6 separate regions of the Homo sapiens genome follow, and all the other regions are linked to region 2. The links come from fine-mapping of genetic effects on gene expression. A gene starts in region 2. Each other region holds a variant in brackets. All regions are shown on one strand. Distances are between the middles of the regions. Region 1 overlaps PLEKHA5 (pleckstrin homology domain containing A5). Region 2 holds the start of PLEKHA5 (pleckstrin homology domain containing A5). Region 3 overlaps AEBP2 (AE binding protein 2). Region 4 has its middle 47 kb from the start of PLEKHA5. Region 5 overlaps PLEKHA5 (pleckstrin homology domain containing A5). Region 6 overlaps LOC107984527 (a long non-coding RNA gene).

What was found.
Region 1: its variant is fine-mapped to the expression of PLEKHA5 in whole blood (TOPMed, PIP above 0.99).
Region 3: its variant is fine-mapped to the expression of PLEKHA5 in whole blood (TOPMed, PIP 0.97).
Region 4: its variant is fine-mapped to the expression of PLEKHA5 in whole blood (TOPMed, PIP above 0.99).
Region 5: its variant is fine-mapped to the expression of PLEKHA5 in whole blood (INTERVAL, PIP above 0.99).
Region 6: its variant is fine-mapped to the expression of PLEKHA5 in blood mononuclear cells (TOPMed, PIP above 0.99).

The regions. Positions count from the first base shown.
Region 1 is chr12:19,149,791-19,155,012 of GRCh38, forward strand. The region is part of intron 3 of PLEKHA5 (pleckstrin homology domain containing A5); the gene reads left to right. Among named protein-coding and RNA genes, the nearest start is that of PLEKHA5, 23 kb to the left of the region's middle. The variant T/C (reference allele first, on the strand shown) is at 2,664.
Region 2 is chr12:19,127,128-19,132,349 of GRCh38, forward strand. PLEKHA5 (pleckstrin homology domain containing A5) reads left to right here and starts at 2,606. Exons shown (of 32, transcript NM_001256470.2): 1 at 2,606-2,761; 2 at 2,924-3,003. The coding sequence starts at 2,673.
Region 3 is chr12:19,474,632-19,479,853 of GRCh38, forward strand. All of the region lies in intron 3 of AEBP2 (AE binding protein 2), which reads left to right. Among named protein-coding and RNA genes, the nearest start is that of AEBP2, 38 kb to the left of the region's middle. The variant T/C (reference allele first, on the strand shown) is at 2,814.
Region 4 is chr12:19,080,317-19,085,538 of GRCh38, forward strand. No RefSeq gene overlaps it. Among named protein-coding and RNA genes, the nearest start is that of PLEKHA5, 47 kb to the right of the region's middle. The variant GT/G (reference allele first, on the strand shown) is at 2,840.
Region 5 is chr12:19,176,072-19,181,293 of GRCh38, forward strand. All of the region lies in intron 3 of PLEKHA5 (pleckstrin homology domain containing A5), which reads left to right. It also overlaps the pseudogene RN7SL459P. Among named protein-coding and RNA genes, the nearest start is that of PLEKHA5, 49 kb to the left of the region's middle. The variant T/C (reference allele first, on the strand shown) is at 2,612.
Region 6 is chr12:19,063,932-19,069,153 of GRCh38, forward strand. LOC107984527 (a long non-coding RNA gene) reads left to right here. Exons shown (of 2, transcript XR_001749033.1): 2 at 4,653-5,007. Among named protein-coding and RNA genes, the nearest start is that of PLEKHA5, 63 kb to the right of the region's middle. The variant C/A (reference allele first, on the strand shown) is at 2,929.

The DNA of each region.
Region 1 (5,222 bases), 23 kb after region 2:
CAGGCATCCACCCGAGTGAGCAGAAGCACCTAAGGGTCTCTTGAGGCCTAGATTCAGAACTGGGACAGTGTCACTTTTACTGCTTTCTGTTGGCTAAAGGCAGTCACAAGGTCAGTTCAGATTCAAAAAGTGGAGAAATGGACTCCATCTTTGGATAGGAGGAGTTGCAGACTAACATTGTACAAGGTTGTAGATACAAGGAGAGGTGGAAGATGGAGGCATTTTTGTAATCCATGTAAGGTACATGCTGAAAAAATTACTGAACCCAGCTAAAGTTTAGGTTCTTCAGTCTGAAATATGGGATTACACTTGATCCTGAACACACTGCTGATCATATATGTACTCCTTAGATTATATAGAAATCTATGTGGACATGTGTGGGATGACCCTCTTTATTAAAACTGTTAATTCCTAACTCCTGTAGAATAGAGTTATTATGTTTTTTTCTTTTGATGCCCTGTTTAGTTGGTTTGGTACTTTCACTGGGGCTGTGTCAGTTTAAGGTCCAAAATAGATCTGACTGATTCTGTTTTGGGGGATGGAGGAAGGTATCTTAGGTCTCAGTGTGCTTCTGAGAAGTCTTTCAAGTAGATGACCTCCCCTGTTCTGCCCACACCCAAAACCCACTGACCAAGCACTTGCTGTCATGTTACCCTGTTTTGTTTTCCCTGTGGCACTTATCACTGGTTAAAATTCTTATTCACTTACGTGTTTTCTTTTTCTGCCTTGTGATATGAGCCTCACAAGAGTGGGGACCTCCTCTGACCCTCTTTGCTGCTAAATTCTCACAGTTAAGAATAGTGCCTTTCTGTTCTTAGGAAATGCTCAATAAATATCTGTTGAACATTTGTAATAAATATTTTGTAATAAACAAGTCAGCAGTTTGTTAAAATACAGTGTGTTTAAATGCTATGTCACTGGTGCATTGCAGACACTTGTTGGGTATTTATGGAATCTTGAGGGAGGGCCGTGGTCAGTAGGAGCTCAAGGAGAATGAAAGCTTGAAGCCACAAAGGGTTTTTCTAGATTAATCCAGTGAAAGACAGATGAGCAGGAGAGTTAGGGTATGATAGATTTGTTGAAATGTTGAACTGTTAGACTTCAGGCTGGGAAGGAGGGAAGTAGAGCAAAAAGTGATCTGATAGATTGGGATAGAGATTCTTCCAAGACCAGAGAACTCCCACAGGGAAGTAGTTAAACATGTATACTGCAAGGTTGGAGATTTGGTGTTGCAGTGTGATCATTGAAGTCATGATTTTAGATGTGCCAGGTTATGGGTATGACAAGGTTCTGGGATTAAGAGAATGGATGGCTCAGGTAGTTGAAGGACCTTGGGGGAATGGGGAATAAATATCTGTTCTTTGAGAGAATGCAGTAGGACAGCTGATGGGAGAAAGTCCTTAACAGCCAAGGTACTGAGGTAATGCTTTGAAAAGAGGTTGAGGGTATAGAGGAGTTTGCTAATTATGGAGCACCATTTCCATAGGTAGTTAAATTTGTAAGATAGAAGGTGGACTGTAGACTAGGTCAGGGATGGAAAAAACAAAGCCTTGTAGGGTTAATGCCAGGTCAGTAGATGGATTGAGAGAGGAATTGGAGATAAAGTTAATTTGGGCATTGAGAGGTTTGCTGAATTTAGTTTCAGTAGACTCCTAGAGAAAGGTGACCCTGGGACTTACAGAGGCCGTGACTCATTTGGCCAAGAGTGGTGGTCAGCCCAGGAATTTGTGGGTTCTGCCTGTGCTCCTTAAAGGGTATTTGGGTAGGTAGATTGTGAACTCTTAATAGCTTACATACTAAGCAGATACATAGTCATTAGCAGCTTCCATATTTTCACTATGGTTTTTCAGAATATTTTAAGTATTTTTTTATTAGAAATGACATTTTCCAAATGTAAACTCTTTAGAGATGGAAAACATTAATGATATATGCAAATACTAAAGGACAGTGATTTAATTTAAGTAATACTGTTGTCAAGTGTAAAATTCAAAGATCTAAGCCTGGAACCTGGACTTAAAAAAAAAATTCAAGGATCAAGATTTTCAGGTTAGCATTTTCTATTTTTTGGTCATACTTTTTTTTTTTTTTTTTTTTGAGACAGGGTCTTGCACTGTCACCCAGGCTGGAGTGTAGTGACACGATCTCGGCTCACTGCAAGCTCCACCTCCAGAGTTCATGCCATTCTCCTGCCTCAGCCTCCCGAGTAGCTGGGACTACAGGCGCCTGCCACCACGCCCGGCTAATTTTTTGTACTTTTAGTAGAGACAGGGTTTCAGCATGTTAGCCAGGATGGTCTCGATCTCCTGACGTCGTGATCCACCCTCCTTGGCCTCCCAAAGTGCTGGGATTACAGGCGTGAGCCACCGCGCCCGGCCACATTTTTTTTACATTGGTATTAGCAGTAGATATTTTAATGTAAATATTTAATCTTTTTTGCTGTTAGTCATTTTGAAAGTTCAAACTGTGTGATGAACCAGACCAAAACTTCATAATCTTTAAACCACAAAGTTGCCTAATAGGCAACAAAGTAAGCAGGACAACAGTGGAAGATTTTACAAATTCTCAGAAACACCTGGAAATAATTTAGGAAAAGCTTTTGACTCTAGGCTCATAGATAGAGACTGTACATGAAGAATAATTAATAGCAATTACTTTCTTGTCTT[T/C]AGTCTTTCGTCAGATTTGTTTCTTTGAAAAGAGCAAGGCAGGTTAAAATAATCTGTATAATATAAATTGCCCATGCAATGCAGGTCAGTTTGTTTTATGCAGGTAGCAGTAGTACGAACTTGGGGTCCAATGATATTTTTTATATACTACTTATATATGATGGTAATAATTAAAATCTTTGAGTATGTTTTATTTCTTTAATTATGACAATTTAATTAAATGCCAAATGAATATAACATTTGTCAGACATAAGGGAAAATAAGATGAATAAGCACTGCACATGATACTCAGCTTAAAATAAGAACATTTTTTTTATGTCAAAGAGCTTCTCTAGGATCTGTAAATAGGAGTGTAATTGAAGTTGTAAAGTACATGCATTTGATTTTGGGAATTTCTTTATTATAATCTTTTATCCATAATATGTGTGGCAAATTTACTCTCCTACATTGTAGCTTACCTTCACATTCCAAGAGATCTTTTGACGAACAGAGTTCTTAATTTTAATAAAATTATGTCAGTCTTCTGTAAATTAACACAGGTTTTTTGTTTTTTTTTTTGTTGTTTTTAATTCCTTTCCAGTACTTTAATCTTTTTCCATTCCAGTCCTTACATTTCTTTATATTGCTGGCTAGTATTGCCAGTACAGTGATAGAAGCAACTACAGCTCTGATGTAAAAATGAAGGATTCTAATTTTTACCACTAAGAATGATATCTGATGAAGATTTTTGGAAGGTATCATTTCCAGGTGAAGGAAATTCTCTATTTCTACTTTAGTAAGAACTTTTATTATGAGTTTAAGTATTGAATTTTATCAACTATTTGTTCTGCATTCATTAAGATTTTTTTTCTTTTAGTTTGCTTATTCAGTGAATTCCATGAATTGCATTAATACTCTTGTTAATGCTAAACCATTAATGGTAAATCTTACATTGTTGGGATCAACCCAACTTGGTCATGAAGTACTCTTTTTTCCAAGTTAATAAAGTTTGTATTTTTTAGAGCACTTTTAGGTTCATGGCAAAATTTAGTAGAAAATGTATAAAGTTCTCTGTTACGCGTACACACACACAAACCTTTACCCCCTCCCCCACTGTGGACATCTTGCACCACAGTGATACAGTTGTTACAATTGTACCTACATTGTCACATCATTATCACCCAAAGTTCATAGTTTACCTTAGGATTCACTCTTGGTGTTGTGTGTTCATTGAGTTTTGACAAATGTAAATGACATGTATCCACCATCACAGTATCATACAGAATAGTTTCACCCCCCTAAAATCATCTGTACATTGTTCTGTTGGGTTTGTTGATACTTCATTTAAGACTTTGATATTTATGATAACAAAGTGAAATTGCCCTGTAATTTTCTTCTCTTGTACTGTCATTGTCTGGCTTTGATAGCAAGGTTGGTCTAGCCTCAGAAAATGAGTTGGAAGGTGTTCCACTTTTTTGTACTCTGGAAGAGTTTGTATGAGGTTAGAATCAGTCATGGAGAAAGGGATATTATAGTTTTCAAATGTTGCAGTGACTTCTTGTTTTCTCTGTGTACTCTGTCCTTTTATTTTGAGTTTATATTATCAGATGCATTTAAGTATAGAATTGTTATGTTCTGTTAAGTGTAGAATATGCCATCAGAATGAAGCCAACATTTTTATCATGAGGGGACCTCCACCTCCGGTAGTACTTGTGCCTTTATCTGTTTTGTCTGATTTTGATATATAAACTTTCTTTTATTTAGCATTACCTACTCTAATTTTTTTTCACCCTTTTAAAATATCTGTTTATCCGTATATTTGGGTGTATCTTTTTAAAATAGTATATAATGAATCTTTTTCCAGTTTTATAAACTTTTTTTTAACTTATAGTCAACTTATGATTGTTGGTATATTTAGGTTTATTTATACCTTATTTTGTTCTTTCTTCTCTTCCTTGTTTTCTTGTTGGTTATTTAAAAGGTATATAGTTTTAAAATTGTGTACAACCAAGATACTCAGCAATGGATAATCAATTTTCCTCTCAATCTTTGACTTTCAAGAAACTGGAATAGATTTCAGTATGTACTACAAATTGAGTGAGAAATTATTCGGGAAAATGCCCAATAAAAGGCCTTCATAATTTTGGAAGAAGTAATTGGAATAAAGGTGACTCATCTCTTATTAGTGAGAATGGTTAAATATGCTAATTAAATGCCTTTCACTTTTTGTGTTTACTTGTTTGTATTCATTGATGGAAGCAGAATGTTTGGTGTGTCTTTTAGATTTAAAAACTGGAATCTACTAGTAACATATTTATATTGGCCTTTTTGTGATTTAAAATATAATGTTATCTTTTATAACGGCATCAGACCACACTGAGTGCCTTCTAATTACAGTCTGTGAGTCTTGTGAGTACAGAGAAATGACAAGCTTTGCCCTGAAGGATTTCATATGCCCCAGCAATGTCTAATGATGTTAAGTTAAAGCCAGATAAGATTGAGAAACCTTTCTGTATGTGTCAGTATTAGGTCAAACCTCTGGATTTACACTGGTGGGGCTCAGGCATCAGAAAGAAAATG
Region 2 (5,222 bases):
ATCTTTTGGCTTCCTTCCTTAAGTCACAAATGTCCTTGATGGCATCTAGAATTATGAATTTTTTCAATTTACTTTTTCCAGATCCATCCAAGGACCCCCTATCTCTGGCAGCTATAGCCTTATGAAATGTACTTTCTACATAATAAGACTTGAAAGTCACAATGACTCCTTGATCCATGAACTGTGGAATGCATGTTGGGTTAGCCAACATGAAAACAACACTAATCTCTTGTATGTCTCCAGGAGAACTCTTGGGTAAACAGGTACACTGTCAATGAACAGAAATATTTTGAAAGGAATCACTTTTTCTTTTCTTTTTTTTTTTTTTTTTTTGAGCAGTAGGTCTCAACAGCAGACTTAAAATGTTCAGTCAGCCATGACAGATGTGCTGTCATCTAGGCTTTGTTGTTCCATTTATAGAGCACAGGAAGAGTATATTTAGCATAATTTTTAAGGGTCTTAGAATTTTTGGAATGGTCAATGAGAATTGGCTTCAACCTAAAATCACCAGCTGCATTATCTCCTAACAAAAAAGTCAGCCTGCCCTTTGAAGCTTTGAAGCCAGGCATTGACTTTTCCTCTCTAGCAGTGAAAGTCCTAGATGGCATCTTCTTTCAATAGTAGGCTGTTTTGTCTACATTGAAAATATGTTTAGTGTATCCACCTTCAATGATCTTGACTAGATTTTCTGGATAACTTGCTGCAGCTTCTACATCATTTGCTGCTTCATCTTGCACTATTATGTTACGGAGATGGTGTTTTTCCTTAAATCCCTGATAGCTTCAACCTTTTCTTCTGCAGCTTCCTCAGCTCTCTCAACCTTCATAAGATTGAAGAGAGTTAGAGCCTTGCTCTGGATTAGGCTTTGGCTAAAGGGAATGTTGTAGCTAGGTTGATCTTCTCCCCAGACCACTAAAATTTTCTCCCTATCTGCAATGAGGCTGTTTTGTTTTCTTATAATTCATGTTTTCACCAGAGTAGCATTTTCAATTTCCTTCAAGAACATTTCCTTTGCATTCCCAACTTGTCTAATTATTTGACACAAGGCCGAGCTTTTGGCCTCTCTTGGCTGTTGATACATCTGAGCTTAATCGTTTCTAGCTTTTCATTTAAAGTAAGGGACATGCAACTCTTCCTTTCACTTGGTCACTTAAAGGGCATTGTAGGGTTACTGGTTGGCCTAATTTCAATATTAGGCCATTATTATTAGACAATTATTAGTGTTTCATTTCAGGGAATATGGAGGCCCAAGATGAAGCAGAGAGACAGAGGAACAGCTGGTTGGTGGAGCAGTCAGAACACACACATTTATTAAGTCCCTGTCTTACATGGGCTCAGTTCATGGTGCCCTCAAAACAATTTCAACAGTAACATCAAAGATCACTGATTACAGATCACTATAACAGGTACAATAATGAAAAAGTTTGAAAGATTGCAAGAATTACCAAAATGTGCCACAGAGACATGTAGTGAGCAAATGCTGTTGAAAAACGGTGCTAGGACTTGCTTAATGCAGAGTTGCCACAAACCTTCAATTTGTAAGATGTGAAAGATCTGCAAACAGCAATAAAGTGAATCGCAGTAAAACAAAGTGGGCTTGTACAGCAAGGAGGTTATACAAATATACTTTTGAAATCCTACAGCCAGTTTGAATCCAGGCTTTGGCAGTTATTACTATGACTGGGCAAACTACTGTGTTTTTAAACTTCATTTTTCCTATCTGTAAAATGGGGATTTTTTATAGATTGTGTGTGTGTGTGTATATATACACACACACACACACATATATATATATACACACATATATATATAGTTGTTGTGAAGATTTAAAAATGTACACCGTCACAAGGACTCCATAAAATAAGCTATTATTGTAATCTATTGGAGACAGGGCAAGTAAAAATCCACACTGATGTTAAGTGAATCTTTAAAAACAAGTACCAGAAAAAGACGAGTTTTTATTTTATAAGATATGACCTAAGGGGCCTAGGAAGAGAAAAAACTTGTTTTGTCAAGTCTAAATCCACTCATATTTCATGGGGCCACGTATCACGTCCAACCTTTGATATCTGGCACACAACAAACAAACAGGAAAGGCCTTTCGTGTGCTTTAATAAAAACAGCTTTCCATTTTAAAACGATAAATATATTGGAAAAATCTGTTGGCTCTCCAACAGCTCTTATAAAACAAAGCTCAGACGCTGTGTTTTTGTTGTTTGAAAGAGAGAAATCAGGGGCTTGGGCATTATTAGGCTCCCTTTGATCGCGCCCTGGGATGGGAAGCCTTCGGGCAAAGCCCTGGGGGCAGGACGCGTTTTTTTTTTTTTTTTTTTTTTTTTTTAATCGATCCCGGAACCTTCGCGCGGCGGAGGGGGCGGGCGCGCCGCAGGGGCCCGAGGGAGGGGTCTGGGGCGCGGCGCCGCTTGCCCATCCCCCGAGCGCGCGGCGGGGCGGCCGGCCGGCGGCCGCCGGGATGCGGAGGGGCGGCGACGGGGGCCGGACCCTGCCGGGGCGGCGGGGCGGGCACCGCCCGAGGGGGTAGGGCGCGCGCGGGGGCGCGCCGGGCCGGGGAGGCGCGCTCGCTCCGCGCTCCCTTCGCTCGCTCGTTCCCTCCTCCCTCGGCAGCCGCGGCGGCAGCAGGAGAAGGCGGCGGCGGCGGCTAGGGATCAGACATGGCGGCGGATCTGAACCTGGAGTGGATCTCCCTGCCCCGGTCCTGGACTTACGGGATCACCAGGGGCGGCCGAGTCTTCTTCATCAAGTAAAGAGCCGGGGACGGCACGGGGGCCCGCGGGGGCGGGAGGGCAGGAGGCGGGCGGCTGGCGACACGGGGGAGAGCCCGGGTCTGTGCTCCTGCAGCCCCTCGGCTCGCCCCCGCGTCCCCTCTCACGCTCCGTGTCTGCCCCTTCTCTCACCCCTGCAGCGAGGAGGCCAAGAGCACCACCTGGCTGCACCCCGTCACCGGCGAGGCGGTGGTCACCGGACACCGGCGGCAGAGCACAGGTAACGCCGGGCCCAAACGGAGTTGGGCTCCGCCTGGAGGAGGCGGCAGAGCCCGGGCCGCCCGGCTCCCCGCAACCTGCCCCGCGCCGCGGGCCCCGGGAGGCGGCGAGGCGGGGCGGAGGCCGGGCGGGAGCGGCCGCAGGTAGAGGGGCCACGGGGACTCCGCCGCCGGGAGTTCTCTCCAGTCTCGGGGCGCCTCTTTCTCCTCAGCCTTTCATCAGCACTTGGAGACGGCGCCCTCTTCCTGCGCCTTCTCCCCCCATCCCAGCCTAGACGACCCTCGCGACCCTAGAGTGGCGACGCTCCCCTCCCTGAAACCTGGAGTCCTGAGTTTTTCCTCCGCGGCCGCTACTCACTCCCCGGTGACCCCCAGCTGCCGTCTTGCCCCCCAGCAATCTTCAGGCAGTCCTTACCCACTCCCCTCCCTGCAGCCCCGGACCCCGATCGCCCGCCGGGATAACGTAACCACATCCTCCCCCTCCTCCCAGGAGCGCTGCCTCCTGCCGTGCAGCTTCCTCCTCCTAGGTGGGACTTGTGGGTAGGTGGCTGATGAAGGAGGAGGAGGAGGAGGAGAGGAGTTCGGGGGTGCTGCGATCCTCTCTGTGACAGGGAACGGCTCGGGAAACGCTTGGCGCGTTCCCTCCTGCCACGGGAGGAGCAGCCGGAGCCGGAGGAGGCGTTCGCAGCCTCAGTTGCTGGCGATCCGGATCTAAAGTCCCCGCCAGCCGCACGGAGGTTGCACAGACTGCCAGGAGGCGGTGGGCGTGCGAGGGGGTGTCCCGTATGGGGGCACCCGGGCCCTGTTTGGAGGGAGTCCGTGGGGAAGCGGCTCTCTCGGGTGGCTTTGGGAGCTTGTTTGAATGCTAAGTGTGAGTGGAGCTGGAAAAGGCTCCTCGTAGTTTCTGTACTGGTCTGGGTTTCTTTTATCATTCTTTGTTTACATTCGTGACTTGTTTGTCTTTGAAATGTAACATGTGTTCTCTTACTGGCCTGCCTCTAGTCCTGGTGATTGGAAAGGCTTGAGAGCAGTTTGGGTCGAAGGCGAGGCCAGTTTCAGCAGTCCTCAGAGCTGGCCTCTGGGGTACATTCTCTCGGACTCTGACATTCCGTGAATCTGTTAAAGTTGCCAGGATATTGAACAAACCTGCCTCTCTGTGAAATGCTGGAGTTCACTGAAGTGACTAATGTCTCCAAATTTGCAAAAAGGTGGAGGAAGAAAGGAAAGGCTGGTGTAGCAAGCATGATGAGCTTACATTTTTAAGGCATTTCTGACTAATACACTATCATGTTTCTCAATTCCCCGGTGCAGGCTTTTGCTTCAATATACCTTTCTGGTGTTTTACACGCATATTCCAACTTTGATGGCCTCTTTGCTTTTATGGATAATGATAGATTTATTTCATGAAAGACGATATGACATTTAAATTATTTAGACTAATTATCCTATGGAATTATGAGTGATATAAATAAGTGTCCTAGTTAACCCCACAGATTTGGTAACATTCACGCCACAGAAAAATTTTATTCTTTTATGTGATTTCACTTTTTTTTTTTTCTGGTTTGGTTTTACTTTGCTTGGACTCTGGTTTTGTACACACATCGGTTGTTTTTACTTCCAAGAGGCATTTTGATGAAATCCAAACAACTTGTCATTAATAATAATATGTAGCACATAATGACCATTGTTCACCTGAATCATCCCCAACTTTACTACTTGAAACTTCACGTCTCTTAGTCAAATTTTTAGAAACACACACGGAAGTATTCGGTGTCATTTCTTTTCCATTAATTAAGTAGTTAGGAAGTTCTGCCTTCTTTTTGGTGACACTTCCTAGATGGATTCATTTGTGTAGCTGAAAAATACGGTCTTAAATAGACACAATATACCCAAGAAGAGGCAGGCGTTGCCTGTTATACCCAGCTTTTTTTTTTGCTAGTCATTCATGAGTGTTCCACCTGGGATGAGAAGGCTTCCCTTTGCTTTCTTGGGTGCCAGAACATAGTTCCTCTCCACCCTAATATATTACAGTGTGTGCTCAGGTCAGATAATCTCTAATATTATGGTTACTTTTCTGGTGGCTCTAAATTTGAATTGCTGTTTTTCAAAAAATGATATCTGTTGTATTGCCAGCTCAACACTTTTTTTGTTAGTAATCTACTTAATTAAAACAGCTAATAAATGAAAATGGATAATTAAAATGGATTGAGACTTATTTTGC
Region 3 (5,222 bases), 350 kb after region 2:
GTGCCTTGCTTTAAAAAGAAACAAACTTAATTTTAGAGCAGCTTTAAATACACAGATTACTTGTTTTTCTATATACTTGTTTTTCTATATACCAAGTTTCTTCCATTCTTGAAATACTATATTGTATATGGGTACCTTGCTTTTTTGTTTTAATTTGAATAGTTTTTTTTTCCCCCCTCAAGATGGAGTCTTGCTCTGTTGCCCGGGCTGGGGTACAGTGGCATGATCTTGGCTCACTGCAACCTCCGCCTCTTGGGTTCCAGCGATTCTCCTGCCTCAGCCTCCCGAGTAGCTGGGATTACCGGCATGCGCCATCACGCCTGGCGAATTTTTATACTCTTAGTAGAGATGGGGTTTCACCATGTTGGCCAGGCTGGTCTTGGACTCTTGACCTCGTGATCTGCCCACCTTGGCCTCCCAAAGTGCTGGGATTAACCACACCTGGCCCTAATTTGAATAGTTTTTGGGGAACAGGTGGTTTTTGGTTACATTGGATAAATTCCTTAGTGGTGATTTCTGAGATTTTGGTGCACCTGTCACCTGAGCTGTGTACACTGTACACTGTACCCACTGTGTAGTCTTTTATACCTAACCACCCCCACCCTTCCCTCCTAGTCCCCAAAGTCTATTATATCATTCTTATGCCTGCTCATAGCTTAGCTCCTAATTATAAGTGAGAACAAAACGATATTTGATTTTCCTTTCCTGAATTACTTCACTTAGAATAATGGTCTCCAACTCCATCCAGGTTTCTGTGAAAGCCATATTTTGTTCCTTCTTATGGCTTGAGTAGTATTCCATGGTATGTATGTATGTATGTGTGTATGTGTGTGTATATATATATATACTGCATTTTCTTTATCCACTTATTGATTGAAGGGCACACTTGTGTGTGCAAGTGTCTTTTTCATATAATGACTTTTCCCAGTAGTCATTCATATAATGACTTTTTCCCAGTGTCATTCATATAGTGACAATCCCAGTAGTGGGATTGCAGGATCAAATGGTAGTTCTACTTTTAGTTCTTTAAGAAATCTCTGTACGGTTTTCTATAGTGGTTGTATTATATTCTCACCAGCAGTGTAAAAGTGTTCCCTTTTCACCACATCCATGCCAACATCTGTTGTTTTTTGCCTTTTAAATTATGGCCATTATTGTAGGAATAAGGTGGTATTGTGTTGTATATCTTCTTTTGAGAAATGCTTATTCATGTAATTTGCCCACTTTTCGATGGGATTATTATTATTTTTTTCTTGTTGATTTCTTTGAGTGCCTTGTCAATTTTGAACATTAGTCCTTTGTTGGATGCATAGTTTGCAAATATTTTCTCCCATTCTGTGGGTTGTCTGTTTATTCTGCTGATTATTTCTTTTATGTGCAGAAGCTGATAATCTGCTGATTATTTCTTTTTATGTGCAGAAGCTTTTTAGTTTAATTAGGTTTCATCTGTTTGTTGTTGTTCTTATTGCATTTGCTTTAGGGTTCTTGGTCATAAACTCTTTGCCTAAGCCAATGTCTGGAAGAGTTTTTCCAATGTTATCTTCCAGAATTTTTATGGTTTAAGGTCTTAGATTTAAGTCTTTGCTCCATCTTGAGTTGATTTTTGTATAAGGTGAGAAATGAGGATCCAGTTTCATTCTTCTACATGTGGCTTGGCAGTTATCCCAGCAGCATTTGTTGCAAAGGGTGTCCTTTCCCCACTTTATGGTTTTTAGTTTTTATTTTTTTGAGACTGAGTCTCGCTCTGTCACCCAGGCTGGACTGCAGTGGTGTGATCTTGACTTACTGCAACCTCTGCCTCCCGAGTTCAAGCAATTCTCCCGCCTCAGACTCCCGAGTAGCTGGGATTACAGGTGGCTGCCACTATGTCTGGCTAATTTTTAAATTTTTAGTAGAGACAGAGCTTCACCCTGTTGGTCAGGCTGGTCTCGAACTCCTGACCTCAAGTGATCCGCCCGCCTTAGCCTCCCAAAATGCTGGGATTACAGGCGTGAGTCACCAATATTTGGCTTTATTTCTGGGATCTCTATTACATTGGTCTATGTGTCTGTTTTATTCCAGGACCATGCTGTTTTGGTAAGCATAGCCTTGCAGTATAAAAAGTCAGATAATGTGATACCTCCAGATTTGCTCTTTTTGCTTAGTCTTGCTTTGGCTATCTGGGCTCTCTTTCGGTTCCATATGAATTTTAGGATAGTGTGTTTCTAGTTCTGTGAAGATTGATGATGGTACTTTGATGGGAATTGCGTTGAATCTGTAGATTGCTTTTGGCAGTATTGTCATATTCACAATATTAATTCTACCCATCCATGAGCATGGGATGTGTTTTCATTTGTTGGTGTTGTCGATGATTTCTTTCAGCAGTGTTTTGTAGTTTTCCTTGTAGAGGTCTTTCACCTCCTTGGTTAGGTATATTCCTAAGTATTTTATTTTTTTGTAGCTTTTGTAATAGGGGTTAAGTTCTTTAGTTGTTTCTCAACTTCGTCATTGTTGGTGTAGAGCAGTGTTATTAATTTACGTTGATTTTTGTATCCTGAAAGTTTACTGAATTTATCAGATTACAAGCTTTTTGGATGAGTCTTTAGGGTTTCCTAGGTATATGATCATATCGTCAGCAAACAGCGACAGTTTTATTTCCTCTTACCTATTCGGATGTCCTTTATTTCTTTTCTCTGATTGCTCTGGCTAGGACTTCTAGTACTTATGTTGAATGGAAGTGGTGAGGGTGGACCATCCTTGTCTTCTTCCAGTTGTCACGGGGAATGCTTTCAACTTTTCCCCGTTCAGTAGAATATGGGCTGTGGGTTTGTTTA[T/C]TACGTTAAGGTATGTTACTTCTGTGCCAGTTTTGTTGAGGGTTTTAATCATAAAGGGATGCTGGATTTTTTTGTTATATGCTTTTTCTGCATCTATTGAGATCACATGATTTTCAGTTCTTTTTATGTGATACATCACATTTACTGACTTGTGTATGTTAAACCATCTCTGCATCCATGGTATGAAACCCACTTGATCATGGTGGATTATCTTTTTGATAGGCTGTTGGATTCGGTTAGCTAGTATTTTGTTGAGGATGTTTGCATCTGTTATCAGGGATATTGGTCTGTAGATTTATTTTTTTGTTATGTCCTTTCCTGATTTTGGTATTAGGGTGATACTGGCTTCATAGAATGACTTAGGGAGGATTCCCTCTTTCTCTGTCTTTTGGAATAGTTACATTAAGATTGGCACCAGTTTTTCTTTGAATGTCTGATAGAGTTCAGCTGTGAATCCAACTGGTCCCAGAAGGGTCGTGTATTTCCCAGAGTTTATCCTCTCCTCTACATTTTCTACTTCGTGCATGTAAAGGTGTTCATAGTAGCCTTGAATGATCTTTTGTATTTCTGTGGTATTGGTTGTAATATCTTTTGTTTTGTTTCTAATTGGGCTTATTTAGATATCGTTCTTCTTTTCTTGGTTAGTTTCACTAATGGTCTGTCACTTTTGTCTTTTCAAAGAACCAGCTTGTTCATTTACCTTTTGTATTGTTGTTGTTCTTTTGGTTTCATTTAGCACCACTCTGGTCTTTGTTATTTCTTTTCTTCTACTGGGTTTGGGTTTTGTTTGTTCTTTCTTGTTTCTCTAGTTCCTTGAGGTATGACCTTAGATTGCCTATTTGTGACCTTTCAGACTTTTCTTTTTTTTTGAGACAGAGTCTCACTCTGTCGCCCAGGCTGGAGTGCAGTGGCATGATCTCAGCTCACTGCAACCTCTGCTTCCTGGGTTCAAGTGAGTCTCCTGTCTCAGCCTCCCAAGTAAGCTGAGATTACAGGTGTGGGCCACCACACCCAGCTAAGTTTTGTATTTTTACAGGGTTTCACCATGTTGCCCAGGCTGGTCTCAAACTCCTGACCTCAGGTGATCCACCTGCCTAGGCCTCCTAAAGTGCTGGAATTATAGACGTCAACCACCTTGCCTGGCATTTGATGTAGGCATTTAATGCTATGAACTTTTCCTCTTAGCACCGCTTTTGCTGTTGCCCACTGGTTTTGATAAGTTGTGACACTATTATTGTTCAAATAATTTTTTAATTTCCACCTTGATTTCATTGTTGACTCAAGGATCATTCAGGAGCAGATTATTTAATTTCCATGTGTTTGTGTAGTTTTGAGGGTTCCTTTTGGAGTTAATTTCCAGTTTCATTCCACTGTGGTCTGATAGGATACTTGATATAATTTAGATTTTTTAAAAAATTTATAGAGACTTGTTTTGTGACCTATCATATGGTCTATCTTGGTCTATCCATGTCCTGATGAAAATAATGTATATCCTGGCCAGGCATGGTAGGTCTCGCACTTTGGGAGGCCGAAGCAGGTGGATTGCTTTAGCTCAGGAGTTTGAGACCAGCCTGGGCAACATGGCAAAACCTTGTCTCAACAAAAAATAAAAGAATTAGTTGAACATGGTGGTGCACACTTGTAGTCCTAGCTATGCGGGAGGCTGAAGTGGGAGGATTGCCTGAGCCTGGGAGGCAGAGATTGCCATGAGCCAAGATTGTGCCACTGCACTTTAACCAGGGTGACGGGCCTCAAAAAAAAGTATATTCTGCAGTTTTTGGTAGAATGTTCTGTAAATACTTGTTAAGTTAATTTGTTACAGGGTGTAGTTTAAATCCATTATTTCTTTGTTGACTTTCGGTCTTGATGACCTGTCTAATGCTGTCAGTGGAGTATTGAAGTCCCCCACTATTATTTGGAAAACTTACTTGAGGGGAATAACTGAGGAAAACTTCCCTGGCCTTGCTAGAGATGTAGATATCCAAATACAAGAAGCTCAAAGAACAGCTGAGAAATTCATCACAAAAAGATCATCACCTAGGCACACAGTCATCAGGTTATCTGAAGTCAGGATACAATTATTATTACATAATTATGTTGCTAGGATTATTATTATTTTACTGTGTTTATTGTGTTGCTGTCTATCCTATTTCTTAGGTTTAGTAATTATTTTATAAATTTGGGAGCTCCAGTTGGGTGCATATATATTTAGGATTGTTATTTTCCTGTTGGACTAATTCTTTTATTATTATTTAATGTCACCTCTTTGTGGGTTTTTTTTTTTTTTTTTTTTTTTTTTTTTTTACTATTGTTGCTTTAAAGTCTGTTATATTTGATATAATAATAGCTATGCCTGCTTGCTTTTGGTTTCTATTTGCATGGAGTATCTTTTTCCACCCCTTTACCTTA
Region 4 (5,222 bases), 47 kb before region 2:
CCCCTAATCCTAGCTACTTGGGAGGCTGAGGCAGGAGAATTGCTTGAACCCAGGAGGCAGAGGTTGCAGTGAGCCAAGATCACGCCGCTGCATTCCAGCCTGAGTGACAGAGTGAGACCCTGTCCCAAAAAAAAAAAAAAAGAGATGTACACGTGATTGCAAGACAGGCAATCCTCAAGAGTTTTCTTTCTTTCTTTCTTATTTTTCAGTGATTTAATTATTTTGCCCAAAAAAACTCTCTAGCCCTTAGAATCTAATGTTTTAAATTCTCTTTGGGGGCTATTTGCTTAGATACCTAAGAAGGCTGTCATCTCTTGATCTTCCTAAATGAAACCCTTATTTGTTCACTTCTCCTCCTACTTCTCCCCCAGCACCATCACTGCATGCCCATAGACATATTTTTCCTCTAGTTTGGTCTTGCTTGCCAACAATAGCCCCAGACACTTGACTGTGGACCCACAGGACCAACAACTGTTCATAGGCTTCTCCATGAGCTCACCTTTGTTAGCTGCATGTTTGGCTTCTAAAGGCTCATTTACTTTAGCTTGAGAGCTCTCACAAAGCAGAAGAATGGATTTTCCCTTTAACTCTTCACAATCATGTGCCTCAGACAGCCCTTTGTGACTTTCTTCCTTTCTTTTGCTTTCATATACATATGAAAAAATTGCAGTTGAACATGAGGCAGTGAAAATAAAGAATTACTTATCTAGGTTCCAGATCCTTCCAAGCACTCAACCAACGACCGCCTTCACAATAACCTTCACCATGCATGTATCAAGGCTTTCCTATATCAGAGCCTTGATTCTGTACAACTTGGCTTTGTGCCATAGTCCCTGTCCACAAGGGGTGGAACTAATGTGGAAAATGCAAAGACAGACAGATACTTTCATGCAGTATTTAGAAGATATAGAGACAAGGTATTTGGGGGAAGTGACAGGAGGATTTTATGGAGGAAGAGACCCCTGAGTTTATTTTATAGGATGCCTGGAAGTTAGCCAGGTTGCAGTTAGAGCAGAGCATAAGTAAAGGTGCAGGTGAGAAACATTATACTGTGCATAGCAGGTATCTACCAGTATAACTGCACAGGTTGCTAGAATAGTGAGATTGCTAGTAGTCATTTCTTGAGCCCTTGAGTCTTCTTTGGATGCTCTGGCTGCTCAACCCTCAAGGACTCCCATGTAGGAATTCAAGCCCCTTGTGGGCATCAAGCAGGACACAACATGTTTGGACTTGTGTTTTAGTTAGATAACTGGCCTCTCTGTGAAGGACCAATTTAAAAAGATAAAACTAGAAACAAGAGGAGGGGTTGGAATTCTTTTCAGAATTCCAGATCACAGAGGATGAAGGCCTGAATTAAGTCAGTGATGATAGACAAGAGGAGGGGACAAATTCAAGAAAAGTTTAGAAATTACGATCAGTAGCACTGGTGAGTGATGAGATTGAGAGACTGAGAAAGAGGTAGTCCAAGGTGATTCCCAAGCCCTTGGCATGGGTGACTGGAAGACTGTTAATGTCACCAACCATTTAAATCATAGATGAGGGTATGGAGTTTATTTTAGACAGGTTGAGTTTCAGGTGCCTGTGAAACCTTCAGGTAAAGACTATCAGTAGGATATAAACTCTGAAATTTGGAGAAGTCATGAGCAGGTATAATAGCAGAAATCGGTGCTGATATAACTACCCAGGAAGGGATGGGATAACGAGAGTGAGAAGACCAGTGGATTTGGTGGGGCCACCAACATTTACAGCATCAGTAGAAAGACAGAAACCCATGATGGAAATGGAGAATGGTAAAGGACTATGAGGACACTGAGAAAGAAAGAGTTTTTGTTGGGTTTTTTTTTTTTTTTTTTTTTTTTGAGACAGAGTCTCACTCTGTCACCCAGGCTGGAGTGTGCTGTGGCACAATCTCAGCTCACTGCAACCTGTGCCTCCTGAGTTCAAGTGATTCTCCTGCCTCAGCCTCCTGAGTACCTGAGACTACAGGCGCCCACCACCATGCCCGGCCAATTTTTATATTTTTAGTAGAGACAGAGTTTCGCCATTTGGCCAGGGTGGTCTTGAACTCCTGACCTTAGGTGATTTGCCTGCCTTGGCCTCCCAAAGTGCTGGGGTCACAGGCGTGAGCCACCAGGCCTGGCAGAGAGTTTCAAGTCTTCATCATCAATGTGGACCACAACAGAAGACTGAGTTAAAGACAGAAAAGCATCGTGAGTTCTGGCAGGTAAGAGGCCAGCAGCGACCTAGAAAAACACTTTCATTTTCATTGTTGTGATAGAAGCCAGACTGAAGTGGAATGAATGAAAGTAAAAGGGAATTGAAAATGTGAACCGCAAATGGAGATGATGTTTTGGAGAGGCGTGTATGAAAAGCAGTGGCATAAGAGTAGGTAGCAGCTAGAGGGTGGAAGACTTGGCTGCCCCTAGACTTTGCTGTCAGTATTTCTCATAGGTGAGATAATCCACTTTTTCACCATCTAAACCTCAAGATCTGCAATTTGACTCTGTTGGCAGCGATAGTTTCCTACTTGTCCCTAATGACTCTGCTATAGGGAGTTTTTCAAATTGCTTTCAGCACGTCCTTGAATTGCTCTACTCACTGTCTTAGTCCACTCTGTCAATTTGATTGTCATCCACCTCCTTTCATGTGCCTAACCCAAAGAGTTGACGCCTGATCATCATGGCCTAGATTGTTAAGGAGTGGTTACATTCCAGGGCCTTTCTGTGGAGATGAAGTTTTCTGATTTGTCAAGTGATGCTAATAGCATTTCTGGGTAGATATATTGATAATGGTAGTAGAAGACCTATCATTATTTTAAAGAAGATTCAAGGACCCTATA[GT/G]TTTTTTTTTTCTTAGCCTGATAAAAAGTTGTACATTTTATATTGATGCAGTGTTGTTTATGAATTACATTTTTAAAAATGTATGGGTACTTCTTCAGAGTTACAAGTGATACAAACATGAGAAGACTATTCTAAAGCATGATCCATTTAATTTAGCAGTACAAACAGAAAGAGGAAAATATTCCCTAAAATTACTTTATAGGATTTGCCTTATAAATTATTCCTTTCATTAATTCAGATACTCATTCCAACATTTATTGAGTGCCTACTGGTTGCCACAGGGTATGCACAGTATTACATGGAAGCAAAGAGGAATCAGTTACATGATTTTGCCTGGGAATGTCATCGAAGGCATTGGAGATAGTAGTGCTTGATCTGAGAGTAGAAGGGTGAATGGCAGCTTTCCAGGTGGACCACTTGGTGAAGGACATTTTTTAAAGAGGGAAAACTTTTGTTCAGGATGAATCACAATGGGTAAACCAAAAAGGGAGGAAGCAGAGAGAGAAGTCAGAAAGCTATTGCAGTCACCAGTTCAGGTGAGATATGATGACCTTACTTTTTAATAATTCCTGTCAGGAGATGGACAGAGTTTTCCTTTTCTTTTTTTCTTTTTCTTTTTTTTTTTTTTTTTTTTTTGAGATGGAATTTCACTCTTGTTGCCAGGCTGGAGTGCAATGGCGCAATCTTGGCTCACCGCAACCTCTGCCTCCCAGGTTCAAGCGATTCTCCTGCCTCAGCCTCCCCAGTAGCTGGGAAGCTGGGATTACAGGTGTGCGCCACCATGCCTAGCTAGTTTTGTATTTTTAGTATAGATGGGATTTCTCCATGTTGGTCAGGCTGGTCTCGCACTCCCGACCTCAGGTGATCCACCCACCTTGGCCTCCCAAAGTGCTGGGATTACAGGCATGAGCCACCGCACCCGGCTAAGAGCTGGACAGATTTTAAAAGTGTAGTATCGGACCTCAAAAAAGCTTGCAGCCCAGGAAAGTCTGTAAATACTTCTGTAAGAGGCCAGGTAAAAGAAAAAAAAATGGGAACAGATAGGTATGGTGAGAGAAACAACTTCTCCTTTAATGCATGATGCTATTGGTTATATTGTGTTCCCCTAAAATTCATCCACTGAAGTCCTAACTCTCAGTACTCTAGCATGTAACCTTATTTAGTAATAGGGTATTTGAATGTGTAATTAATTAATATGAGATCATACTGGAATAGAATATGCCCCTAATCCAATATGATGAGTGTTCTTATAAAAAGCGGAAACTTGGGGTCACATAAACACAGTGAGAAGGCCACGTGAAGAAGAAGGCAGAGATCAGGGTGATGCTTCTACAAGATAAAGAACACTAAAAATTACCAGAAGAAAAACAGAAGATAGAGGAAAGGCATGAAATAGATTCTTTCTCACGGTCCTCAGCTAGTCCTCAACACCCTATTGACAACTTGATCTTGGCTGTGAGGTTCCAGAACTGGGAGACAATAAAATTCTTTTGTCTAAGCCACCTCATTTGTAGTACTTCATTATGGCAGCCCTAGAAATCGAATACATATGCCTTCACAACTGCTCCATAAATGGCCTTGTTTTGTCAAGTCAGCCCAATTCCATCAAGCGTGTAGGAGTGCAACTAGAGTTCATGAAGAGACCTCTAGCCAGAACATATGACCAAGTACCCTACAGTTTAAGAAAGAAGCACAACCATGTCAAAGCTAAATCATTTCTGTCTTAGAGTTAACAGGTGTAAAACCAATAGAAACTCGGTGTTCTAACATTTATTTCAAAATCTATTCTTCTTTTCCCTAGAACCATTCACAAAGTCTTCCATTTGTAATGACTCACTTGGCTCCCTTCCACTACTCTTCTTATTTTGAGCCATTTATTTTTCATCTGTAGATTCAGCCCCACCCCTAATCCAAAATTAAAGATATCCCTAGTCAGAGATTATTTAATAAGCTCTGTGCCAGTGGGTTTATCATCTAATCTGCTTGGACAATGAGCAAGCATTGTTCTAGAAAATAAGCATTGTTCTTTATGACCACATCCCCAGGTTTGGGGCCTGTCTTCAAAGACTAGGTCACATCGGGCCTCCTTACCATTAAGTCTCAATTACTGAGGCTGTTCCATGACTTTCCTGGTGACTCATTCTGTAGCTCACACCTCCCTGACCATCTGTGCCAACTTGGTGTATCTGCCCGGCCTCTGGGTCCTTGCCTTCTCTGCTCTGACATGGCTAGCCACTAACTAGACTCTGGTTCTGACCTACTTCTCTTTCTTCTAAGCAGTGAAGACTTTATTTTCCAGTTTTAAAAATACATTTGGCATAGCTGTCAGTATAAGTTTGGTTATGCTATGATAACAAACAGCCCCAAAACTCAGCACTTAAA
Region 5 (5,222 bases), 49 kb after region 2:
AGAAGTGAATATAACACAAATGTCTAACAATTGACTTATTTTATTAAACCATGAGATAACAAGATACAATGTTGTATAGCTTTGGAGGGAGTTCTCCAGACACTCTCTCTCTCTCTCTCTGTCCCCCCCCCACCTTCCTCCCTCCCTCTGTCTTCCTCCCTCCCTCTGTCTCTATTATTTAAAATAAATAAAGTAGATAAGTAATTTTTTTTTTTTTTAAGATGGAGCCTTATTATATGCCGAGGCTGGAGTGTAGTGCTGTTCGCGGGCACAATCCCTCTAGTGATCAGATCAGCACAGGAGTTTTGACCTGCTCTGTTTCCAGTCTGGGCCAGTTCACCACTCCTTAAGCAATCTGGTGGTCTCCCGCTCCCAGGAGTTCAGCATATTGATGCTGAACTTAGTACGGACACGCTATCAGCATAGCATGCTGCAGCCCGGAACTTTTGGACTCAAGCAGTCCTCCAGCTTCAGCTTCCTAAGTAGCTGGGACTATAGGCGTGAGCCACCATGCCTGCCTTTCTCTTCATTAACAGAGATTAGCAAGTGTTGTAAAGGTATTAAGTCTTGTACCAAACTGAAGTGTTTTCCTTGATAGAAGCTTAGGTATAGGAAAGAAAACTGAAGAGGAAATCACCTTCTTATTTTGAGACATAAGGCATTTTTTTTAACTTTCTGTATTTACTTAAATTGACAAATAATATATATATCATATGCTACATAATGTTTTGAAATATGTATACACTGTGGAATGGCCAGATCAATCTCATTAGCATATGCATTACCTCACATATTTATCTTTTTTTCTTTTGAGACAGAGTCTCACTCTGTCGCCAGGCTGGAGTGGAGTGGCACGATCTTGGCTCACTGGAACCTCTGACTCCCTGGTTCAAGCGAGTCTCTCTCCCGCCTCGGCCTCCTGAGTAGCTGGGATTACAGGCACGCACCACCACACCCAGCTAATTTTTGTATTTTTAGTGGAGACAGGGTTTCACCATGTTGGCCAGGATGGTCTTGATCTCCTGACCTCGTGATCTACCCATCTTGGCCTCCCAAAGTACTGGAATTACAGGTGTGAGCCACCACGCAGGGCCCACATATTTATCTTTTGTTTTTGTGGTAAGAACACCTAAAATGTCTCTTATCAGTTTCCAAGAATACGATACATTGTTATTTATGTAGCTTTTAAAAATATTGAACATAGAGATGTGATAATTAATGATGTGTTAAAAATACAGTACAAAATAGTACTAGTGATTACAATTATTCTTTTTGAGTGCATATGACTACCAGACACGTGGTAGAAACCAGATTTCATGTATTATCTGTAATCCTCATAACAGAACATATAAGGAAGATGATATTTCATTTGATAGATAGGGAAACTAAGGATGAGGGAGGCTAAGCAGTTGTTATGCAGACGAGTTTCATTTTGAAAGGGTCAAAGCCTTTGGATCAGTTCCCACTGCAACACATCTAATACACCCACAGTGCCGTGTTGTCCTTCGGGAAGAAGTTTTGTGCTCTTCTTTTGGTAATGTTGCTCAAATGATCATAATAATTTTAAAGCACACCAAGAGTTGACCTGGAGCCTGTTTGAACTATGGCATGCCCAAGTAGTGGTTTCCTTTATGCCCCATTTCCAGTTTATAGTTGAGGATAATCAGGCCTGTGCTATGTATTTATTTACTTCAATAAGTTATAATTTATAGGTGCATTTTTAATTCTACGGATCAGTAAGAGGTGATTTCCCTACTCAAAAATACTTGATTTGGCTTTCTAGTGGTAGGAATATTTTCTGCCATGATTACTTTTCTGTGATGTAGCCAGTGCTGATGATCAGCTTCTGTGTGACTAATTGGATAGCTCTGTGAGTTCACTGTGGAAATGTAAACTCTAGCTTTGAAATTGAGCATACTGTTCCTTATGGCAGTTAAGGCTGTGATGTTAGTGTCATCATCTTCATACTCCTGCACACAACTTCCACGGCTCCTGGTGTGCTGTGATTAGGTTTCTGGAACCATTGAGCACTCACCCCCACCCACGTTTCAGAAATCTCCTTGGTCTATTATTCCAGTGTGCTGCCCAAGTATTGTCATTTCCTTTGTGTGCTGTGACGTGAAAAAAACTGAGGATGCATTCACTGGTAGCAAGCCACATATTTATAAATGAGTACAACACAGAAATTGGTTTGATTTTTCTCTTGTACATTATATTTTGTTCAGAATTCATTATTCCCTAGGTAAATGCAGGAGACATCGCTGAAACATCAAACTGATCCCATCATTAAAGACAGTAGCATATTCAGGGATTATGCCAGCATAATTTTGTAGAAAATAAAAGAAGTCACAAGTTAGAGAGACAGGTGCAGCATTGCAGCTACACGAAGTGGAGCGTGCAGTTTTCCAAGTAGGTAGTTAATTTTATCCTTAGTTTTCATGATTGAAGTAATAACATTGATAAAATGAAATAAGTTAAAATATGACAGTGTTGGGAAAATGTAGAATGATAATACTCCGTAGCTTTTGAGAACCTGCTTACCTCTTTCTAGTGAGAGATCCAGGATTTTTCTGGTTGATAGAGATCTGTCCTGGGCAGAAAATGGCAAAAC[T/C]GAGATTCGGCTCATGACTTCATTGCTTTTATTGTGTCCTTAGTCTGCCTTACTGGGCGTTAGTTTCCTTAATCTCTACAGAGGAGTTGTGGGCTAATATGCAGTGATGTCTGTGGATTGATTTCTTTAAAACAACAACAAAAATAAAAAACAAACAACTCTCAAAACACAAAGTAGTAGAAGTAGAAATATTTATAGTGGCTGGTGGAGTGCTGTTGGATATATCAGTCTAATTTGTTGAAACCTAGAAATCATGTATGTCCTAGTTGGTTTATTCTACTTGGGATTAGAAACCAAGTGCTTAGGGTAAAGGAGGAGAGATTCTGCATTTGTTTTATTTTCATTGCAGATGCACATTACCTCTTTCAGAAATTCCTGAGTCATACATGATTACATTATGTTTTTATGCGAGACATTTAATTCCTTTGCACTGGGAAATAAGTTTTTCAGTTGCAGTTTTTTAAAATGTGAAATTGGCTGCTTTATATAACAATTGTTTAATGCTCTTTTTATTATTCCATTTTTGATCCCATAGGTTGTTGTTAGGGCCTCTGTTTAACAGTATGTATTATTTATATTGAAACAGAAGAAACAGTTGTGTCACACTGTGATCTCAGTTTTATGAATTTATGCATAAGGCTAAGGACTGGAGGGGAACCTGAAAAAACAATTGAACAAAAGAATGAAGTGTTGGCCGGGCGTGGTGGCTCACACCTGTAATCCCAGCACTTTGGGAGGCTGAGGCAGGCAGATCACCTGAGGTCAGGAGTTTGAGACCAGCCTTACCAACATGGAGCGAAAGCCCGTCTTTACTAACAAATAACAAAATTAGCCTGGCGTGGTGGCACATACCTGTAATCTCAGCTACTCGGGAGGCTGAGGCAGGAGAATCGCTTGAACCCGGGAGGCAGAGGCTGCGGTGAGCCAAGACTGCACCGTTGGACTCCAGCCTGGGCAACAGGAGATAAACTCCGTCTCAAAAAAGAAAAAACTAAAACAGTGAAGTGTTAGTTAAATATAAATGTTTAGAGCGTAAATTTTTCCCTGGTATATGGGGGAGAGGTGGGTTTATTGCAGTAATTACAGGTGAGTTAATTAAGTAGCTGAAAGTTAGCCTCTCATTTGTAAAGACACACAATAATAACCTTTTTTAGCTAAAAATTAGAGACACTGAAAAAAAATTAGAAAAATATTTTTTAAAGAGAAAGGGTCTCGCTATATTTCCCAGGCCGGACTTCAACTCCTAGACTCAAGATATCCTCCTGTCTCAGCTTCCTGAGTATCTAGGACTACAGGCATGTGCCATGCACCACCACGCCTGGCTAACAGGATAAATTTATATGAAAAGACTTGTAAACAAAAGTCTTTCAGGCTGCTCTCAAAACACACACATGATTAATGATACTTAGTTTTTGTACCTTGTATCAAGGTGCAGTATGCTGGTGATTATTTTTTAGAGCACGGAAATGCCAGCGGTAGTAAGCAAATCTCAAACTGTCAGCTTAGAGGTTTATTGTGCGTGTCTGCTCTTTGAGTCTATAAAGGGATTAACAGCTGAATATAGACTTTAAATCACTGTTGGGATTTAAATTTTTACTCTGAAAGACTAGGTCATTTGACAGTAATCAAGGGTATTTTCATTCTCAAGACTGTTTTGCAGGCCCAGCAGAAAACCCCTCTATTTAACCCATGAGGGGAGTCATCCTCAGGGCTGAGGCATATGAAATCTGGGGTACTTCACACAGAAAAATAATAAAAATGTAGGGGGATTTGCCTTGTGGTTGAATCCAGGAAGTTCTAAATTGGCAATAAGCAGATAGGGAACAATTTTGTCAGATACTGTGGATTAATGGTATTTAAAAGGCACCTTGTTATTATTTTTGATGCACAAATAATTTTACATCTGCAAGCATATTTTAGAAATTCACCAATATGATGACTAATTATTTGGCCAAAAAAATTGACAGTGATTGTTGCAATTATATTTCTAAAGACCCATGCAATACAATGGTGATTTAAAATATGTTGGTCATATGAGTTTTTAAAACTGAATTGTTTGTTATAGAAGTAATATAAATATTTAAAAAATATATATCTTTGAAAAATATAGTGTTTTTTTTTTTTTAAACTGTATTCCAAAGCCGATTCCTGAGACTGTGCTTTATATGCACCTACGGCTCCTAAAAAACATCAGCCACAGCTTCAAGCCTAAGCTCACCCGAGACCCAAGTCAGACACCTCTGGTGTGGAGCCTGGGGATCTGTTTTTAAAGAACTCCACAGTGCACAGTCAGCATTCAGAACCACCATTCTAAAGTTTTATATGTTTCACATGGATAGGCAGATAGTTGAAATTGTAAAAAAAAAAAAAAATCAATTTTGATTCTCTAATATAATGGAAAATATCAGATTAAAAAGAACTCTATAGTAATATTTCACTATTTACTTGAGATGACCTGAACTAGGTATAACGAAATGGAAGACTATAGCACATTGGATAGCCACAGACCAGTACTGGTATGAATTAGAATTGAATTCTGCTTAGATTGTAAAGGAACTTAAATTTAGCACTAAGATAAGATTATTAAAGGAAAATAATGTGATTAAATGAA
Region 6 (5,222 bases), 63 kb before region 2:
TGGTGTATATGTACCACATTTTTCTTTATCCAATCTGTCGTTGATGGGCATTTAGGTTGAGTCCATGTCTTTCCTATTGTGAATAGCGCTGCAATGAAGATTTTATTTCTTGATCTGGGTGGTGGTTACATGCCTTATGATAAATTATTAGGCCATACGTTTTTGGTTTTTTGGTTTTGTTTTTTTTTTTTTTTCAGACGGAGTCTCACTCTGTCGCCCATGCTGGAGTGCAGTGGCATGATCTCAGCTCACTGCAACCTCTGCCTCCCGGGTTCAAGTGATTCTCCTGCCTCAGCCTTCCAAGTAGCTAGGATTACAGGCACCTGCCACCACGCCCGGCTAATTTTTGTATTTTTAGTAGAGGCGGGGTTTCACCGTGTTGGCCAGGCTGGTCTCAAACTCCTGACCTCAAATGATCCACCCACCTCGGCCTCCCAAAAAGTGCTGGGATTATAGGCATGAGCCACTGCACTTGGCCTGTATATGTTTTAATTGCAAAATTTAAAAGCTTTTTTAAAAACCTTCAACATGAACCTGTTGGTGGTATCCAGTGATACTGCTACTTGCGGCAAATGGCCTGTTAAATTCAGTCCTGGCCTTTGCATTGTGCTTTCAGTAACCATATATGAAAGCCCAACACAGCAATTCTTACTGAAGCTATCATCTCACTATTTAAATGAAAGACTTTAGAATTTTTCTTTTTATGCAAAATGAATTGTAAGGATTTTCAGAAGAGAAAGAACAGCAAACATCTCAAACCACATGTAGTTTTAATTAAAACTCTCCTAGTAGAAAAAAAAAACGTTATCATCAGCTGCTGTATGTACCCTCTAGGACCTCCATAGGAGTGCTCTGCTTTCCTTAGGAGAACTGTCAATATGCACACACACTTGAAACAGATGAGAGACTTAGCAGCAAAGATCCTCATCCTGTGTGGTAGCCCATCACAGGAAGGGGCAATGGAGCCCAGTGAGTTCTCTCTTCACCATGGAGCTGCCTGCCACCCAAGACAGGCATTTAACGTGTTGGCTCTGGCAACCCTCACTTCCCTTGTCATTCCAATTAAGCTATTAAAATCAATGCAGAAGTCTTAGCTACTTGGGAGGCTGAGGAGGAAGAAGCATTTAGCCCAGGAGTTCAAGACCATCCTGGGCAACTTAGAGAGGCCCTGTCTCTACAAAAAGAAAAAAAAAAGGGGTTTTTTTTTAATTAGCCAGGAGTGATGATAAATTATTAGGCCACTACAGGCCTGTAGTCTGAGCTACTGGAGAGGCTGAGGCAGGAGGATCACTTGAGCCCAGGAGTTTGCTGCAGTAAGCTTTGATAGTGCCACTGCACTCCAGTCTGGGTGACAGGGTAAGATGCAGTCATTAAATAAATAAATAAGTAGAAGTACTTAAAGCTAAAGTGTTACAGTAGATGTTCTTAAAGGGGTCAGAAATTTGTACCCTGACTTCTTAGCAAGATGCTTTTCCACTTTGTTAACCTCAAAAAGAAAAAAGTCTAAAGGTCACACCTATATTCCGTGGCTTCATTGATTTCTTCAGTTTCTTTTCCACTAGGTGAATGTTTACCCTCTCGATATTTTTTTAAAATTTCTATTTGATATGAGAGAGTAAAAGTTTACACTTTAAAATCCTCTCCACTCACCTTCACCCTCCCCCAACCAAACCTCAGCTTTTCCTGGACCAAAATCTCAACTAGTGTCCACAGACATGGATACATACCTAGAGCAAAATAAATCAAATGGGAATTTTAATGCACTCAATACAGTTGAGCTAAAAGTCACTTATTTTATGAAGAAAAGATAACAACCTTTCTTATGCTAGAGCACACTCGCTTCTTGAACAAAGTTCAGTGGTTAAAGCTGGTGGGGAAACGACCTATTTCGGATGACAGATAAATAAATTCCAGGTTAAATACTAGAGAAATATCTTAATGAAGATTTTTTCAGACTAGAGCAACCTCCTGAGGGAAACAGTTTGAAGTGACATCATTTGAGACATTTAAATTATAGTGGATAAAGTACTCAAACCCACCACAAAGAAACACTCTTTGTAGAACTCATGGGAAAATTACTGGGATTTATAATAGGCCTTTTCTATGAGGAGGTAAGCCTGCCTACGAGGCAGACCTGCTATTGAATAAATGTTATTTTAAATGGAGTGTGGCTGTATTGTAACTCAGTTCCTCCTTCTATGGAGAAGAGCATGAATGGGTAGGTTAGCCAAAAAATTAATAGGTTTTTTCTTTTTAAAGCAGTAGATTTCTTCACAAAGCCTACCTAATTATGTGAGTTTTTCCTCAAGAATGACATGCTTCAATGCTCATTTTCTTTCAACTATTTTTTTAAATGTTATCTACCCCAGGACTTCCAACCCCCTTTCTCTAACAAATCAGCATGTAGCAGAGAAGTTCTGAACTAACACAGCTTTGAATGTCAAATGTTTAAATTTGAATGTTCTGCCTTTTCGATAAAATGAATTTAACAGTGACCCTCCAAGGATTTTCCACTTCCAGTCTTACCCAGAACAGCCCTCATTAAGCATGTAGCACTCCACAAAGAGTAAATCATTTATTTGGAATCAGCCCTTATGAGCTAGAAAAACTACCTTTCAGAAAGCCTTCATTTCAAAGGACAATTGCCATATTCTGTAAGCCTATTGATTTTTCTTCACTGTTGGAATGAAGAATGTAAACAGAATTGCATATTTACTCATTGCCTTTTCTGATACCTTTGCTCTGAGAGCTCAACACTTCTGTCCCACGTGTATGAAAGGCTGCTCTTTCCAGAGCTGGTCCGTGTGAGATGATTAATGAATGGCCAGACAAAATTCTGATTAATGCTCCACTATTAAGATTTGCCTTTACTTCAAGAGCTTTTTATAAGTTCATAGTTTTGACCCCACAAACCTTTCTCCCCTCCCC[C/A]CCCCGCTTGGTAATTGCTAAAGTTTGACAGCCACTGTGTTTGCTGCCTGTAACATATGGCTAATTGAATCAGAGTTGGGGAAAGAACCAGTAGATTCCTAATTATGATCCACTCCACAGATCTGAAGCCTGAATAAGCAGGAAACAAGGAAAAGGCTGCAGAGCCTAGAAAACCTATTATAGCGGTGATTGTAGCAGGATGCAAACATTTCTAAAACTGACTGAATATCATTTATTTAGAAAGCGTAGTTTGCTTTCTGTCTTTTAATTACACAAAGCAAAGAAAGATTAGAGAGAGATTTGCTTTTATCTGTGTGATTTTTGCACGTCTGGACACTGGACACCTCATATTCTCATAATCATATTTTAGTAGACATTTGCATTTCTAATAAGGCAAACACGCTGGATTTTCATCTTATAGGTTCTTCTCCATCCTCAACACTCCAGTTATGAAGACACATGTATATATTTTTAAATGCGTGTTTCAATTTCAAATGAATTTTTCTACAGCAGTTAATGGTAACATATGTCCTCTGAATTGCTTCCCCCGGGGTGAAGAGTAAGGCAATAAATGAAATATTCATCGAATATTGCTGCTGAACATTTAACTAACAATGCAAGGCACATTACTAGGTGTCAGAAGGGTAGGCACACGATAAAACACAGCTTTTCCATTTGTTTTCAGTGCTTGGGGAAGTAAGCAAGATGAACAGTAGCAGTATAATGTGAGATAGGTCATGGTCTATACATAAGGAATATGTTATTTGATTAATGCCTTCCATTAGACTATAAATGAAACCTAGCACAGTGACACAAAATAGGTTTCAATAAATATTAATTATGAATGAATAAAGGAAGGAGGGAATATAATATACAGTTGTATTGGACTTTTGAGAGAAATCACTTCTGATTATGGGATTCTAGAGAGACTTTCTTAAGAAAGATTTTGGTTTCAGTCTTAAACTAATGGATAAACTTATAGTAGGTATGACGTGGGTCACTCTACTGAGATGACTCAAGCATAGGCAAAAAAGTAAGATACAGGATATATTTGGGTGGCACAATTAATCTAGTTTGTTTAAGAAAGTCATCTATAATACTTGACATTTTTTCAGCATGTTATAAATTTTATAAAGATACGTGAAAAAGAGTAGTGGGAGACAGACCTAGAAAGGTAAATTGGGAACAGATCTTGGATAACCTTGATTACAGGTTAATGATCATGACAACCATCAATGTCTGTGGGTTAATTCAACTTGTAACCATTTATTCGTAACAGGAAATGTTCTCTTCTCTGAAGTCTTTCAAGAACTCATATACTGAAATTAACATATTATAGTAGTAAAGATAAAGTAATGGCTGTCCCTGGAATCCGTTCTCAGGATCAACTTGGAAGGTAGTAGAGCTGGATAATTCCACTGAGAATTGACATCCATATTAGAAACTTCAGTCCCTCTCCCTTTTTCCTTTTGGCAGCTTGCCAGCTGTAACTAAAAATAACTCAGAACTTTAATTTAAGAGATAATATCTATGGTGTCTTTGTTAACAATCATATTTTTATTGTAAGAACTTAGAAGAAGGAATAAAATATCTCATTGAAAGGCTAGGTAGTGACAAGAATGTAGTTTCTTTGGAATTTGTGGCAAAGACTATCAATTGTTTACACCAACAGCTGTTCTTCTCTAATAGTATATTAACATTATAAAATCCATTATTTTTGACAGCAAATATAGATACCTGGAGAATTCCAAGAATACAGTCTAAGTTTCTAACTTTCCTTGCTAGTGTAATTATGTGAATAATTTCTGGCCAATAAGACAAGCAAAAGAATTGTGTGCAACTTCTGGGAAGAGAAGAGATGTGACTTCCTTCATCTTGTTCTTCACCTTGCTGTCTGGAATATGAACTTGATGGCTGGAACTTGAGCAGCCTTCTTGGATCAGAAGGCGGCCTGGGAATAGGAATAGAGCTGAAGAGAAGCCGCTGCATTCTTGAAAATTATAAAGATGCCATGCCATTTCAGCTTGCTTTCCTGTGGACTTCATTTATATGTATGAAATAAAAGTTTATATTGTTTAAGCTCCTGTGGGTTTTCTGTCACTTGCAACTAAATACAAACTTATATAATTTGAAATGTTAAGAAATTAAAGAATTTTTAGGAATAATAGCAATATATAAAGCATCTTACAGTAAATTAGATTGTTGCTAAGGAAATGTTCATTCTTCCCCTTTCCATAGAAGGAACACACTTCCCTACTGATGGATTTAGCCATGTGACTTCCTTTAACCAATAA